Linked DNA regions of Homo sapiens: all the other regions are reported to be linked to region 1. Evidence: microRNA targets listed by miRTarBase, many of them from high-throughput screens and not tested one by one. Region 1 holds a microRNA gene; each other region holds the end of a gene's coding sequence.
What was found. The annotated mature microRNA hsa-miR-143-5p reads GGUGCAGUGCUGCAUCUCUGGU and lies in region 1 at 3,344-3,365, opposite strand. An mRNA with a match to its seed (bases 2 to 7 or 8) in the 3' UTR can be bound and repressed. Matches are read on the target gene's strand: a 7mer-m8 pairs with bases 2 to 8, a 7mer-A1 pairs with bases 2 to 7 and ends in A, and an 8mer does both.

Region 2: miRTarBase lists ESCO1 as a target of hsa-miR-143-5p. Seed matches in the 3' UTR shown: 7mer-m8 at 3,542-3,548.
Region 3: miRTarBase lists SIK2 as a target of hsa-miR-143-5p. Seed matches in the 3' UTR shown: 7mer-m8 at 21-27.

What each region holds. Positions count from the first base shown.
Region 1 is chr5:149,427,234-149,432,308 of GRCh38, reverse strand. MIR143 (microRNA 143) reads right to left here and starts at 3,391; the gene lies at 3,286-3,391. It overlaps CARMN (cardiac mesoderm enhancer-associated non-coding RNA), which reads right to left. Exons shown (of 5, transcript NR_105060.1): 4 at 3,270-3,426. It overlaps MIR145 (microRNA 145), which reads right to left and starts at 1,663; the gene lies at 1,576-1,663. RefSeq lists an enhancer at 1,029-1,323.
Region 2 is chr18:21,525,925-21,530,999 of GRCh38, forward strand. It overlaps ESCO1 (establishment of sister chromatid cohesion N-acetyltransferase 1), which reads right to left. Exons shown (of 12, transcript NM_052911.3): 12 at 3,360-4,566. The coding sequence ends at 4,419. GREB1L (GREB1 like retinoic acid receptor coactivator) reads left to right here. Exons shown (of 33, transcript NM_001142966.3): 33 at 1-188. Among named protein-coding and RNA genes, the nearest start is that of ESCO1, 72 kb to the right of the region's middle.
Region 3 is chr11:111,723,836-111,728,910 of GRCh38, reverse strand. It overlaps SIK2 (salt inducible kinase 2), which reads right to left. Exons shown (of 15, transcript NM_015191.3): 15 at 1-5,075. The coding sequence ends at 4,782. It also overlaps a transcript of PPP2R1B not described here. Among named protein-coding and RNA genes, the nearest start is that of PPP2R1B, 40 kb to the left of the region's middle. RefSeq lists an enhancer at 5,069-5,075.

The DNA.
Region 1 (5,075 bases):
AGTCGGACCCAAACATGAGGGTTCTGGGGCCTTGGCACTTACTACCATTTCTACATCTCCATGAAAAGCCCTAGCAAGAGTACGGGGAAAGTTCTAATTTTTTTTTTTTTGAGACAGAGTTTCGCTTTTGTCCCCCACGCTGGAGTGCAGTGGCGCGATCTCAGCTCACTGCAACCTCTGCCTCCCGGGTCCAAGCAATTCTCCTGCCTCAGCCTCCTGAGTAGCTGAGATTATAGGTGGCCACCACCATGCCCAGCTAATTTTTTGTATTTTTAGTAGAGACGGGGTTTTGCCATGTTGGGCAGGCCGGTCTTGAACTCCTGACCTCGTGATCCACCCGCCTGGGCCTCCCAAAGTGTTGGGATTACAGGTGTGAGCCACCGCGCCCGGCCGGAAAGTTCTGATTTTGCACCTGGATTACATTAGGTCTTCTGTCATTCAGTTAGTTAGCATTCTCTATAGGCAGTCAGAGAGGCTGACTTTTAAAATTATTTAGGTATTTTTTAGAGACAGGGTCTCCCTATCTTGCTCAGGCTGGAGTGCATTGGCTATTCACAGGCACAATCATAGCTCTCTGCAGCCAGGAACTCCCAAGCTCAAGTGGTCCTCCCCCGTCGGCCTCCTCAGTAGCTGGGACTGTAGGCACTCACCACTGTGCCTGACTTTTTATTTTTGTAGATTTTGCTTTTGGCTAAGAAATTGCCATAGGCCATTGGACTTGAAATCAGCGCTGGCCCTGCCTTTTGCTGTCTGGGCGACCTTGGGCTGGCCACTTTACCTCTCTGAGCCTCACTGATCCCACAGATCTACGTAAGGAGGGCTTTGAGGATGAACCAGCCTGTGGAAGTAAATGAGAGGAAGTGATGGGGGCATTGCTGGTGGTGCAACAATGGAGAGGGTTTCAGTAGTCACTGGCTCAAAAGTGAGGGGGCAAAAGGAACCTCAGTGTGTGTGTGTGTGTGTGTGTGTGTGTGTGTGTGTCCAACGTCTTGTAGCAAGGTTAGCAATCACCATGTGTAGGGGAAGAGCCATAGTGTTCCTAGGGTGGGTAGAGATGCCACAAGAGGGCGTTCTGAGTTTTCATCTTCTCTACCTTGAAAAATTTTCCATTTGTTCTCTGGCTGCATTCCAAATCGAACGAAGACTTAAGGTTTTTAGTTTACCTAACTGATTGAATACACTTTTAAAATGAATTCATGTGTGTTTACTAGTTTATCAGTCATGTGGATGCAATACCGCAGCCCCTGTCGCAAGGCGCGTTGGGAAGTGGGTTGAGGGTGTGGTGGAGACAAGAAACGCATGCCTGATGGTGTCCTGGTTCAACCGCTGCTCAGCCGGGTGGCCTTGGACAAATTTCCCAAGAGTACGGCAGTGCTGAAGTTCCCACATCCAGCCTCACAGGGATGTTATGAAATAGACACGATGGAAAGAAAAGCAACGCAAAGGTTTGGAACATGGTTCATAAGCCCTCTTACCTCCAGGGACAGCCTTCTTCTTGAACCCTCATCCTGTGAGCCAGCCGAGGCCCCATTGGGGGGCAACTGTGGGGTGGGAAGGAGGCAAATCCAGCTGTGAAACCATGACCTCAAGAACAGTATTTCCAGGAATCCCCATCTTAGCATCTAAGGGATTCCTGGGAAAACTGGACCGTGAGGACAAGGTGGGAGCGAGTGGCCTTCAGCGCCAAGGCCGCCGTGTCCCTAAGGACCAGCTGGAGTTCTCTTCTGCATCCAGCCCCATCTGTAGCAGCCAGGGTGGGGTGCCACACGTCGCCGGATGTGGCTTATTGCTCTGGGGGGGAGTAGTGACCGGAACTTCAATTGCCCTGAAAAGTACCGGAAACCCTCTGGCGCCCCCACCCCCAGGACTGCCCTCTGCTGTCTGCACGGCTCATGTGTATTCCCCAGTCTCCTGCCAGAGGGGTGGATTTAAACCAACCATTCAGTTCCTAGCCTGGGTTTGGCAACTTCCTCTCTGATAACCTCCAGTAAGTCACTTAACCCCTGAGCCTTGGCCTTCTTTAATTATAAAATGCATGAGTCCACGACCTACTGGAGAGGTGAGATGAATAAGATTGGGGGAAGGGGGTAGGAGGAAGGAAGCCTGTAGTATTAATGGCAAGTGTCCGGGTCTGTCTTTGCTAAAAGTGACCTGAGATGTAAAGACAAGATGGGAGCAGAATTTAGAATGTTCTCCTCCTGCTCCTCGGTCCCAGGTTCCATAATCACATGCAATGGGTAAAAACATGGATTTGAAGGCAGATTAGGGTACAATCTCAGCTCAGCACAATCAATATGTGACTTTAGGTGAGCTGCTTAAATAAGCCTCAGTTTTTCTCATCTGTAAAATGGGGCTATAACACCACCCACTTCCCAAGCTTTTGGGGAGGTTAAATGAGACTGTGCTTGGCTCCATGGCTCTCCTCTGCTGCTCATTGTGCTTCTGAAGCCTCTGGGAGAAGTCAGACATTTGTGACGTGCCTGGACTGGTTTCGGCAATACCCCGGAGCCAAGGTTAGAAGTACAGAGTGAAGACCCTGACTCAAAGGCCAGAATTTTTATCTTCAGGGCTGAAAGGGTTTTTAGGAATTGTTTGATCCACAAATGATGAATGAGTTTCAGCTGTGAATCAGTACTAGTGGCTTTCCAGGGCTCATTGTTGAGGATTCTGAAGCTGCATCTGAGCACTTCAAGAATGGATGCCTGGCGGGGCGTGGAGGCTCATGCCTGTAATCCCAGCACTTTGGGAGGCCGAGGCGGGCAGATCACCTGAAGTCAGGAGTTTGAGACCAGCCTGGCCAACATAGTGAAACCCCATCTCTACTAAAAATACAAAAATTAGCCAGGTGTGGTGGCGCACACCTGTAATCTCAGCTACTTGGGAGGCTGAGGCACGAGAATTGCTTGACCCTGGGAGGAGGAGGTTGCAGTGAGCTGAGATTATGCCACTGCACTCCAGCCTGGGTGATGGAGTGAGACTGTGTCTCAAAAAAAAAAGAATATATGCCTTTACTGATTAGCTGTGTCTGCCATGGGCTCAGAAAGAGAAAGCAGAGGCAGGGTGCTGGGGAAATGCTAACGCCTCATGCTAAGATGGACACACTGGGGTACACAGAGGAGTCAGGACATGCCCAGACTCGTGAAGCAGATCGTGGCACCAGGGGAACTTGTGTAGAGGAACTTCCCCAGCATCACAAGTGGCTGATAGTATGGAGTCTGGAAACACTCTGTCCTTCCTGTTATGGCCCCCCACAACCCCCCAGCACTTACCACTTCCAGGCTGATGGCTGCAGAACAACTTCTCTCTTCCTGAGCTACAGTGCTTCATCTCAGACTCCCAACTGACCAGAGATGCAGCACTGCACCTCAGGCTGGGAGACAGGGCGCTGCGCTGCTCCGCTCTGGTGGCCTGTGGCGGGACTCCAACCTGGCCAGGAGAAGGGGTGTTAGAGGGGACCTGGGCTCCACCTCTCCAGCTCTGGCCGGGAGGCTGTTGTAATTCCTCACAACTGTGTTTCCTGTCTGTGGCCTGCCATTTGAGCACCCAGGACCAAACCTTGACCTTTTTTCTCTTCTTTTCTTTGTTTCTTTCCTTTTCTTGTCAAGAACAGCTTAATTTAGAAGGAGGACATTTAGTGAGTACAATTAACAGGTTTTTAATATATTCACAAAGTTGTGCAAACAATGGCACAATATATTTTAGGTTATTTCACCATCCAAAAAAGAAGCTCCTTATCCTTAGACAACCCCTAGTCCTGGGCAGACCAGTTTCTATCTCTATAGATCTGTCTATATATTTTCTGGATATTTCAATACATGGAATTATTTAATATGTTGACCTACCTTTTGATGCCATGCCCCACCTTTATGCTTGGCGCATTCCAGCCTAACAGCATCATTCATGGTACTTAACATTTTATATCATCGAGCAATCAATTGTCTCCAACCTATCTTTCTTCTGCCACTCCTCCTCTCTTCCCAGCCATCTTCCCATAATGATTTTTCAAGATGCAAATATGCTCATATCTTACTCAAGTTTAATATCCCAAAAGGGCTCCCCATTGCCCTCAGGCTGAATTCTGAAGCCCTTCCCAAAGCCTGCGAGGGTCTGCCGCATCTAGCCCCAGTGACCTCTTCCTCTTGGGCTACAGCTCATAGATGTCCTTCCATTCTCCTAGGGAGCCCTGTGCCCACCCACTTCGGGCTCCCAGGGACTGTGCTGCTCCCCGTCACTCTCCCTGCCCATCTCTTCCTCCTGTGCTAGGTCTCTAATCAAGTGGCCACTCTGGGAAACCCTCCTTGACTTTTTTTTTTTTTTGAGACAGAGTCTCCCTCTGTCGCCCAGGCTGGAGTGCAGTGACACGATCTCGGCTCACTGCAAACTCCACCTTCCGGGTTAAAGCAATTCTCATGCCCCAGCCTCCCAAGTAGCTGGGACTACAGGCGTGCACCACCATGCCTGGCTAATTTTTGTATTTTTAGTAGAGACAGGGTTTCACCACGTTGCCCAGGCTGGTCTAGAACTCCTGACCTCAGGTGATCCACCCGCCTTGGTCTCCCAAAGTGCTGGGATTATAGGCATGAACCACAGTGCCCAGCCCCTCCTTTACTTCTTTAGCCATCAGCACCCCCTGCTTCATGTTCTCGCCCACCCGGTGCCCTCTTTCTAACCCTTTACCATGCTGGTAATGTGGTTTTCACTTACGACCACCTCCACTTGTGGACTACATGGCTCACCTGTGAAGGGAAGGGACCCTGTCAACTGTGCTCACTACTGAAATCAGGGCCAGGTGGTGTAGATGCCACATAAGCCCAGGTTGAATGGCTGAATCATAATTCCCAATCTCATTATCTCTAGTATCAGTGTTATTTGTGTGTGGGTCTGACCTGGCTAGATCTCCACTTCCTGAGGACAGTGCCTGTGTCTTGTTAATTTGGGGGGCCCTGGGTCTGACCTGTGGCTTGGTACATGATGATGGACCTAGGTAATGCCATTTGGTGGCTGATTGGATGACCATGTAGATAATTCATTTTGTTTTCTGGGCCCGGCTTGGGTGGGAACTTTCAGGTGAGCAG
Region 2 (5,075 bases), not on the chromosome of region 1:
ATAAATATTTGTAAGTGTAATGACAGACTTTCAGAGGAAAGTAAAGACTACTGGTGTTCCACTATACATTCCAAAGCAGCTGCCTTGAAAAGACTATTAATTAACTGTGAAACTGACTGCTGCAACATCACACTAAACTACTTAGGCCTGAAACAACATCCAGAGAACGAACATTTATCAAGCTTCTCTTTAGACACAGAAACTGGAAATTGGCCCTTAAAGCTTCCTCTGAGTCTAGGAGAATACTACTCTAACACTGAAACCTTGGCTTCACTGAAAACAAAACAACAACAGTAAAAATACTGCTAAAGATGACTTTAGGAATTGCCGCTAAGGCCAAAGAAAAAGTCATTCACATAATAAATTCACTGTGCTCTCAACTATCAAGTGTTGTTGAGTTAAAGCATCTACTTCAGTGACTATGACAATAGATGATGGTATTAAGTTAAAAAAAAAAAAAAAAGGCAACACCAGTAAGTTCTTTTCTGACCACTTCATTCCACATATTTTATTTTTACTAGTCCAGTGTATTTTATTTTTACCAGAAGGGTGGGGGTGGGGGGTTGCTAAAAGACAGAACTCATCCCTTTTTCTGCCTAAAGACTCAGGAGCCATGAGAAAGAAAATGTATGTCTAGAGTCACTACCCTAGAAATCAACTCACTCAGCAATCTCAACCCTAGCTGCAATGTGGATGGGCAGGAATACAGCTGTGTTCCCATCCAGAAGGATAAGACTCTATAGCTGGGCAGCCGTGCAAAGTAAACAAGAACAATTAAAATAACACTGCAGGTTTGTTGTACTCACTGACTGTCCTTACAACAGTCAGGCTTTCAGTAGATAAACCAAGTTCACTCTTGCATATTATGAAGTAGTAAAATACTGCTTTTTATCTGTGTGTCCATGCAGATAAAAGCATCGCCCATAAAATCTTGTAGTTCCTGACTATATTTGTGGCTCTTACCATGTCTCTATGCTAGATATTTTTATAAACAACCAACAACTACATGAGGGCTGCTAACAAAAAATCTATAAGCACCTTTATATAGTCAGCAATTACAGACTCACCCTCTTCTACAGTCTGTGGCCATTAGTGTACACTCACCGTGTCCCTGCTGCCTCCACCACTCCACTGAGACTGCTCTTTTCCTAACATCACTTGGGCTCTCTTCAGTCTTCAACTGTGGTATGACAGGGTTGATCATTCTTTGATTCTTGACATTTTTCCCTTGGTTTCTACCACTCTCTTCTGGCTCTCCTACCTTGCTGCTCATGCCTTCTTAGGCAGTCTTCTTTGAGACTCTTAAATGATGGTGTACCTCACAACTCTCTTCTACCTTCTCATTTTACAAACCCCAGGGTGACCTTGTGAACCTTCAAATAAATAAGTGAACTCATAAATTTGTTTCTCAGTTAGAACCTTTCTGAAACTCTAGATTCACATATCCAATTGTATACTAAAAGGTTTCTCCACTTAAGAGACTCTTTCTACAACCACCTTAAAATCTTGACCAAAACTGAGGACATCCCCATCCAATCCTCCCAACCTAATTCCCCTGTATTCCCATCTGTCAATCTAATTCAATTACCCAAACCAAAATTCCCACTTACCTTAACCTCTTTGCCATGATCTTTTTCTGGTTGTTTATAAATTCCTATCAATTCAACTGTGTCAATTCTTCAATTTTATCTTTTCAATGTGTATCTGTCTCGTCTTCATCTCCACATCACAGCTTTAGTTCAGTGTTTCAACACTTTTCACACAAACGGCTCTTAATTATCATCTAAGTTCCAGATTCCTCAATTATAAACCCTACCTCATAGGACTGTCGTAATGATTACATAAAATAATGCAGGACTAAACACACAGGGTCTGACACATAGCAAACACTCAAATGTTAGGTATTAACTAATAATACTATTCTTAGAGAAATACCTAAATTGTAAAATTTGGGAGGCTATATCTTCAGTATAAACATGAAAATAAACTGGTTTCTCAGTAATAATAACATATAAACCAACCACCCAATATACCCTCTTCCACCTCCAGGTCACCTTGAAACCAAGTCAAAAGTAGTCAAAGTAGTATACTATTGTTTATGGAAATTGGACCTGTATTATGGGATTAACAGTTACTAGAGAGTCTACACTATATCCCAAAATTTCATTCTGTTTTTTTTTTTTTTTTTTAAATCATGGTACCTGTCAGGCAAACAATGAGACCAGGATTGACTAGAACAGTCTCAAGCCCAAAGGGAAATGACAGTATCAAAAGCTAGGGCCAGGTGCAGTGGCTCACACCTATAATCTCAGCACTTTGCGAGGCCGAGGCAGGTGGACCACGTGAGGTCAGGAGTTCAAGACCAGCCTGGCCAATGTGGTGAAACCCTGTTTCTACTAAAAAATACAAAAACAAATTAGCCGGCCGTGGTGGCAGGTGCCTGTAATCCCAGCTACTCTGGAGGCTGAGGCAGGAGAATCGCTTGAGCCTAGGAGGTGGAGGTTGCAGTGAGCTGAGGTCATGCCATTGCACTCCAGCCTGGGTGACAGAGTGAGCCTCTGTCTCAAAAAAAAAAAAAAAAAAAAAAAAAAGCTAGACCAGCTTGATGAATCACGGGGAAATATTTACCGTGCCCTATCATTCTACCCATACAAAATGTAGAGTCTTATACCACTCTAGAAAAAAAAATTTTTTTTTGAGGTGGAGTTTTTTGCTCTTTTTGCTCAGGCTGGAGTACAATGGTGCAATCTCTGCTCACTGCAATCTCCACCTCCCAGGTTCCAGCTATTGTCCTGCCTTAGCCTCCTGAGCAGCTGGGATTACAGGTGCATGCCACCAAAACCAGCTAATTTTTGTATTTTTAGTAGAGACGGGATTTCACCATATTGGTCAGGCTGGTCTCGAACTCCTGACCTCGTGATCCGCCCGCCTCAGCCTTCCAAAGTCCTGGGATTATAGGCGTGAGCCACCGCGCCTGGCCTAGAAATTGTAAAAGCAAAAATTTATAGGGAAATAAAATGTATACCTGTTAATTTAAGGCCCTAAATTTTAGCCAGTTTTCAACTGAGATATGATCATTTCAGCTCACAAAAATAACCTAAGTTGAACCACAGTGGTAATTCATTCTTGGGCTGTGGGCCCTTCATTTATTTGCAACATCATAAAAGTACTATGTTACTAAAATAATCAGAAAGGATTTTGCCTTTGGAAATAAAGTTCAGCTGATTTGCTGCTGACACAATGATCCTTTGGCAAACTGGTGGAAACTGCCTTTAGGAAGCCAATGTTTTAATCATATTTCAAGATATCAAACCAAAAAAACACCCTGAAAAAGCACAAATGACAACACACCATTATTCTCAGTTAGTACATTGGTCACTTAGAAAAAGCTATCAAGTATTTTATTATTTTTATTCTACATTATATACAGGTCATAAAAGGCCACAGCAGTTTTTCAACATATAAACCCTTTAAAAGTAGAGGGCACTATGAAGGATAGACAAGTATCAAAATGAAGTCCAGTAATGAGGGCATATACTCAGTGCAGTATTTCTGAGGAATAACAAAGCAGATACCGAGTCATCCATACTTTGCTTCCAAGTATTCTATACGTTTTTATAAACCTCTTTGAGATTTGTTAACAGCCTAGGTGTGCCAAGTTGCCATTTATTTTAAAAGTGAAACCAGAATGAAAGAATAATGAATCTAGGAGGGTACCTTTCCTAATGCTTGTCATTTACAGCTCTCCAAGAAGGAAAGCCTCAATTCTTTACCACTTTCTACTTCCTCCTTCCATCAAAGATAGGAAAGAGAAAAATCAGGAAAAAAAAGCTCAATATTCTAATTCTTCCTATTTAGCTGGAGCTTTCCTTTTCTATAGGGGTTTCTTCAAAGTATAGTTCAGGCCTTTTAAAAATTAGCTTCAAATTCCAAAACACTTAATATTGCACCCTCCTTGAACAATAACTAAAAAAATTGGTTTCCACTCTGTGAAAATACAATCTTTAAGCCTATCACTGGTATCAGCAGATCAATATAAAAAAATACAGTACCAAGCTACACTGGTATATTTCCATATTAAGAACTTCAAAATATACTTATCACTGAGACCATAGTCCTTGCATTAGTTTTCAGTCCACTATGAACAATTATCTGCTGCATGTAAACATGTCTAAATAACTATAGATAAAATACATCAATCATAAATTTCTGTAAAAGATAATAAAATATCTTCTTTAAAAAACAAAACAATAAGCTATTACTGCATTGTTTCCAATTTTATGAAAATGGAACAACCATATGGTTGTTGCCAGTCCTGAGTTCATTGTAATAAAAATGGCCCTAGTTCCTGGTTAAAGTCAGCAACCAATCCATTCTCTTCAATAGATGTCTTCTAGTGGTGTAGGCAAGAATTTGTTTTACGTGCTATTCTGTCCATTAATAAAATTATATACCAGAAATTGACCAGTGCCACAGTACTGTGTTGCAAACAGCTTTCCATCAGGAGTGGGATCTGAGAAAGCAATTTCTTCTTTGCTCAAATATGAGCCATATATAAAGTTACTCCTATTAAAAAAAAATGGGGGGGGGGAAGGGTTAAGTGTGAAATGTTAAAAAAAAAAAAATTCTAATCATTAAAACTGGAATAACCTGTCAAATACAATTTGACTAAAAAAGCTTTTTAGATACTGCTGTATGTGCTCAAAATTTTTGAAAATAATTATTCATCTATAATATCAATAACCTGAGGTTAAATTTTAATAAAAGCAACAATGTAAAAACATTTACCCAACATCTTTTCATGATAAAAATATTCAACTAAGAGTAGAAATATTTCCTCAACCTGATCAAAGACATCAAGGAATATCAGAGTTAATGGTGAATGACTGAAAACTGTTCCTCAAAGATCAGGAATAAGAGAAGACTACTCTCACCTCTTCTATTCAATATTGTATTGGAGGTTCTCGTCATGAGGAAAAGAAATAAAAATCATCCAGATTGGAAAGAAAGAAATAAAACTATCTCTTTTGCAGATGAAAAGGCCTTGTTTATAGAAAATCCTAAAAAATTCACAA
Region 3 (5,075 bases), not on the chromosome of region 1:
GCTCTGTCGCCCAGGCTGGAGTGCAGTGGCACGATCTTGGCTCACTGCAAGCTCCACCTCCCGGGTTCACGCCATTCTCCTGCCTCAGCCTCCCGAGTAGCTGGAACTACAGGCGCCCACCACCACGCCCGGCTAATTTTTTGTATTTTTAGTAGAGACGGCGTTTCACTGTGTTAGGATGGTCTCAATCTCCTGACCTCGTGATCCGCCTGCCTTGGCCTCCCAAAGTGTTGGGATTACAGGCGTGAGCCACCGCGCCCGGCTGATACTGCTCTTGTCTTTCATACATTGCTCTGAAGATAAGTTCTATAAAAAAATTCCAGGTCGGGTGTGGTGGCTCACACCTGTAATCCCAGTACTTTGGGAGGCCAAGGTGGGTGGGTCACCTGAGGTCAGGAGTTCAAGATCAGCCTGGACAACATGGTGAAACCCCATCTCTACTAAAAATATACAAACTAGCTGGATGCGGTAGCACACACCTGTAGTCCCAGCTACTTGGGAGGCTGAGGCAGGAGAATGGCTTGAACCCAGGAGGTGGAGGTTGCAGTGAGCTGAAATCACGCCACTGCATTCCAGCCTGGGTGACAGAGCGAGACTCTGTCTCAAAAAAAAAAAAAATTAAATAAATTCCAGAAGCAACAAAATGATCAAAGATCCCTGCCTGTACAATGACTCCAACTTACGAGCTTCCCTGTTCTCCAATTTTCACCTTTCATGTTTAGGCACAAAGAGACCGAGTGGCTCGGGTGGCTTCCCAGGAGGCAGTTAGAGGCAGCCCAGTTTAGGAGTTTGAGTGTAGCAGGTCAGCCCTGGCACCGGTGTCAGCCACTGTTCACAGGGACTGAGACTGTGAAATGACACACTGCATATTGTCTCTATAGGAGGTCGAATGGGAAAAAGTTACCTGGAGTATGAATTTTCTTTAAACCAATAGGGAGCTTAAATGTGACTGTTGATACAGGTTTTAAAATGTAATACAAACATATTTACGAACCTGGGGCTTGACTAGAGGCTGGAGGACCCCAAAAAGGAGCGCCACTCACTCACTGTGTCCTTGCATCCTCAACTGCCCGCATGTCTCCAGAGGCTGCTTAGTGCCCACACGCCTGGGACCAACTGTGACTCCAGGCTGCTGCTTGTCACCTTGCCTTAGTTTCTGGCTGATCACCTAATCACTCTGGAGCTGAGAATATCCTTCTCCCCACATCTAACCCGTGGGCAGAATTCTGTGAGCGTTTCCCTGCCTTTAGGACTGATGACACTCGGTGTGTGGGTGGAGGTGGGGGAGTCGTCAGTCTTATGATGAGTCTCTTCTGCTGGAGACTTTGGTCCACGAGAGAGGGTAGGGGGCAGGGGAGAGGCCGATACTCCTACAGGGGGGGTCCCCCCTTGCTCCCCATCAAAATGCAGAGCACCCCATTACTCCAGCACCAGAGTTGGGAAGGGACACAAGAGGCAAGGGCTGGCTTCAGTCTTGGGCTCCTGTCTGTCCCAACCACTGACTCCAGCATACGGTTTAAACACTTGGGAGTTCTTGATATCTGAGGAAGAAAGGGCCACTGACTTTTTCTTTCCTAGGAGGCAAAAGTGGATGGAAGAGAGAAGGGGTTTGCTCAGATGGGCATGAACAGCCCCTGAGCCCCATCCCCACTCCCCTGGTGGGCCCTGATGCTCTCCCACGCAGGGATTCTCAAGGTGGATGGTGTAGAGAACCATCAGCCTCCTTTTCCCACGGTGACAGAAGGCAGTGCAGGCAGAGGTGGCGAGGGGGCAGCTGGGGACGGTCAGTGTCACCGGGAATGTGAAAGTGGGCCCCCTCTTCCTGTCGGGCTAACATGCTGTTTGCCTTACAGGGACCAGTGTATCAGTTGCGTGGAGATACTAGAGACACACTTGCCCAGCTGGGAATTGCAGAGCTAGTGCATTTCTCCCAAAGCACAGACTAATACCCCAGATTTAAAAAAAGAACATAAAAAATAAAGTACCACACATATTGCACTTTTTGCCGAACGAAATTTTTACCTCACGTTCATCTCACCAAAGTCTCTTCAGAGGAGCCTGGTTTACAGGGTGATGAAGCTGATGATGATACAGTAGTGTACACACTGCTAACGTGAATCAGACTGGAAAGCAAGTCAGTACTTCAGAGTAGCCCCGCAGAAAAAGAGCGATACTAAGCCTTCTTAGTGTTTTGTTTGTTAGTAGTGATGAAGAGAAAACTGCTTGGAAGCTTCCATGGGTCACTAGTTAGGGACAGAGCAGCACAGGTGATCAGACAGGGCTGAGCAAACACCTGACTGACCAACAGAACCAGTCTCCTCAGCAGCTTACATTGCAGTCAATACAGAGGGTTATGGAATTTATTGATTTCTGCTTGAAATAAACAAGATAAGCAAATAGGAGCTTACAACACAGGTCCCAGCAGGAGGGGTCACGCTCTGCATCAGGCCGGTGTCCACGCCGCTGCCGTGTGTGACGGATCCTGATAGGCCTGGCTGCTGTAGGGCACCTCTCGATTTCTCTCTGGGTCCTTAACCTTCCAGTAGCCTCTCTGCAGTCCCTCATCGGCTGGCCTAACCGTCCTGCCATAGCTCCCAGGTCTCCTGGGCTAAGCAGCTCATGGCATTGTTGGGGGGCAGGAGTTTATGTCGATCTGTAACTACACCATTCCTGCAGTTCTGAAATGAGTGGCCCCCATTTTCAATCTGCAGGCATTTTAATATCGCAAATATTGTAGCACTTCTGTAGTATATTTTGGGAAAACGTCTTCCTTCAGTCTAAACAAATCAAGCCCCATTTTATAACTGGCTATTTTGTAAAGACTCAAAACAGATTAGAGATCTTAATGAAATGATCTCTTAAATGAAATGATGTTCTTTATTTCACGAAATCATCAATCTTAAGCACGAGCAGGAATAAACAACTCCCAGAAGAAGCTTAATTCATTCTTCCTGGATTTTCACTGTGTGTTATTAAATCACAAAAATGACAGTCCCCACACTGCCCTTTCCCACTGACACCAAGTCCAACCGTGAGCACAGTGCCTCTGCGAAGCATCCTGGCACCCATGGTGAGCGCTGGCGACCAGGCAGTCTCTGGCCAGCAACAGGGACTGCTCAAGTTACCGACGTTGGTAGGAGCTGGGCTCGCATGGCCAGAATGGAACCCCCTAGACTTTCCACACGTCACCTGCCTGAACGCTAACTACAAAGAGGAAAGGCAACTTAAAGGTGTTTTCTAGATGCAGCATCAGTTAGTCCCTCTCTTTGTGCTTTAAGGAAGATGCTTTGTGCTTAACACATTCATCTGCTGATGGGACAAGCCATTCTAAAGGGCAGAAATGATCATCTTTAGAATTAACACTGACTTTGTAACACCTGGATGTTAACTGTCCAAATGGCAAATTATTCATCATTTCTAGGGATACAGTTAGCTAGCTGTAGCATCTAATTTTTACTTACTTTGATGACTGAATTGTAAGTGTTGGTTAAGTTTTATTAGTAATATAATGTTTGGCAGATGATCTGCTTAAATGGTTAACACATCTGTGGTTCTTTCTTTGAATATTGCTGTAATACTTGAACATTTCATTACAAGTCAAAACTTTAACGAAATTAAGAATGCTGATTCCCACATGGTGGAAAACAAACTCTGAAGTGACTTTGGATTTAGCATTGACATAAATGGAAACTGTTGGTTTCTACAGAAAAGAAAGAATTAAAGCATGATCTGGGGGAAAGGCACCGCACTACCACTTCACATGGGACAGAAAAGTTCATTTATCATGTCCTTAAAATCTCTAAGCCCTATATGAAACTGTCCAAATATACAAAGCTCAATAAACTACTAGCAACATATAGTGTAAGGTCAAAGTAGTTATTACATCGGAAAAGAGACAACAGGTACCCTGGAGACCGACTGCCCGCAAGCCAGCAGTGTCCACGAGAAACTGCAGGAAGAGCCTGTCTTCCCTGGCCCAGGGCTGGTGCTCTTGATGCGTTCTTGAGTTTCTTGCCCCCTGCCTCCACGGTGGCGGGTCTCCTGTCAGTTCCACGTGTGACACCTCTGGAGTCCTGAGTATATTCTGACACTCGGCAACCCAGGGCACCTTCTGAAGGGGTGTGTCACCTGCTTCCGAATGGAGATGAAGGCGGTTTCTGGGGTCAGTACCAGCTGTTATTTAGTGGCCCCTGAAACACAGCTCATGCCCCACTGCTTTGTGATGGCCTTGGGGGACAACTTGCATCAGCAGCTAAGAACTTAGGATTCAATGACAAAGCACAGCTTTCCTTTATTTCCTGTGCATCTGATTTCCTGATGTCTTCTTGATTTGCCTTGTAGCAATATGTGGTTGCTCAGCTTCAGTGAAAAATATATTGCCTTTTCCCCCATATATATGCAATAGCACACACCCTTTCTGCTTTCACCAAGGTTGCCCTTGATAATAAACGGATGTAATCCTGCATAACACCTGGGTCTGAATGTCTTCTTAGGAACACATTTGTCAGTGCTGCCCTCGAGAGCTTGCTCCACTCGACCGAAGGGCAGGAGCCTCAGCCTACAACTATGTTCCAGCACTTGCCACAGAAAACTTTGTGGTGGGGCAGAACCAGGAGGAAGCAACATCCACCCCAGCCAGACCCTCTGATTCCAGTTGGGTGGCTCGATTTCTCCCCGTTAGGGAGAGGGCAAGAAAATAAGCTTTAAATTTAAAAGGCTGGAATAAAAATAGGAACATACACTCTTCCTTCACCTGACCCACCTCAATTCCTGTGCTGAGACTAATTCACCAGGACATACCCGTTGTGTTGTGGATCCACAGCGTCTAGCATTTCACAATCAAAGAGTCCAGGTAGCTCAGAGAGGGCTAGTGGGTCGTAGCTGGAGGGGGCCTCTTGCAGTCCTGGGCTTCTGGGACAGTCTGGCCCCGTTAGGTCGCTCTGCTGGGCTCCATCCACAGGATACTGACAGGGAGTGGGATAGTCTGGCGCAGGGGAAGCAGCGCTTGGCAGCTCACAAGTCTGATAGGAGAACTGTAAGGGGGCTGGGGCAGCTCCTGGCTGTCGTGGTGGTGG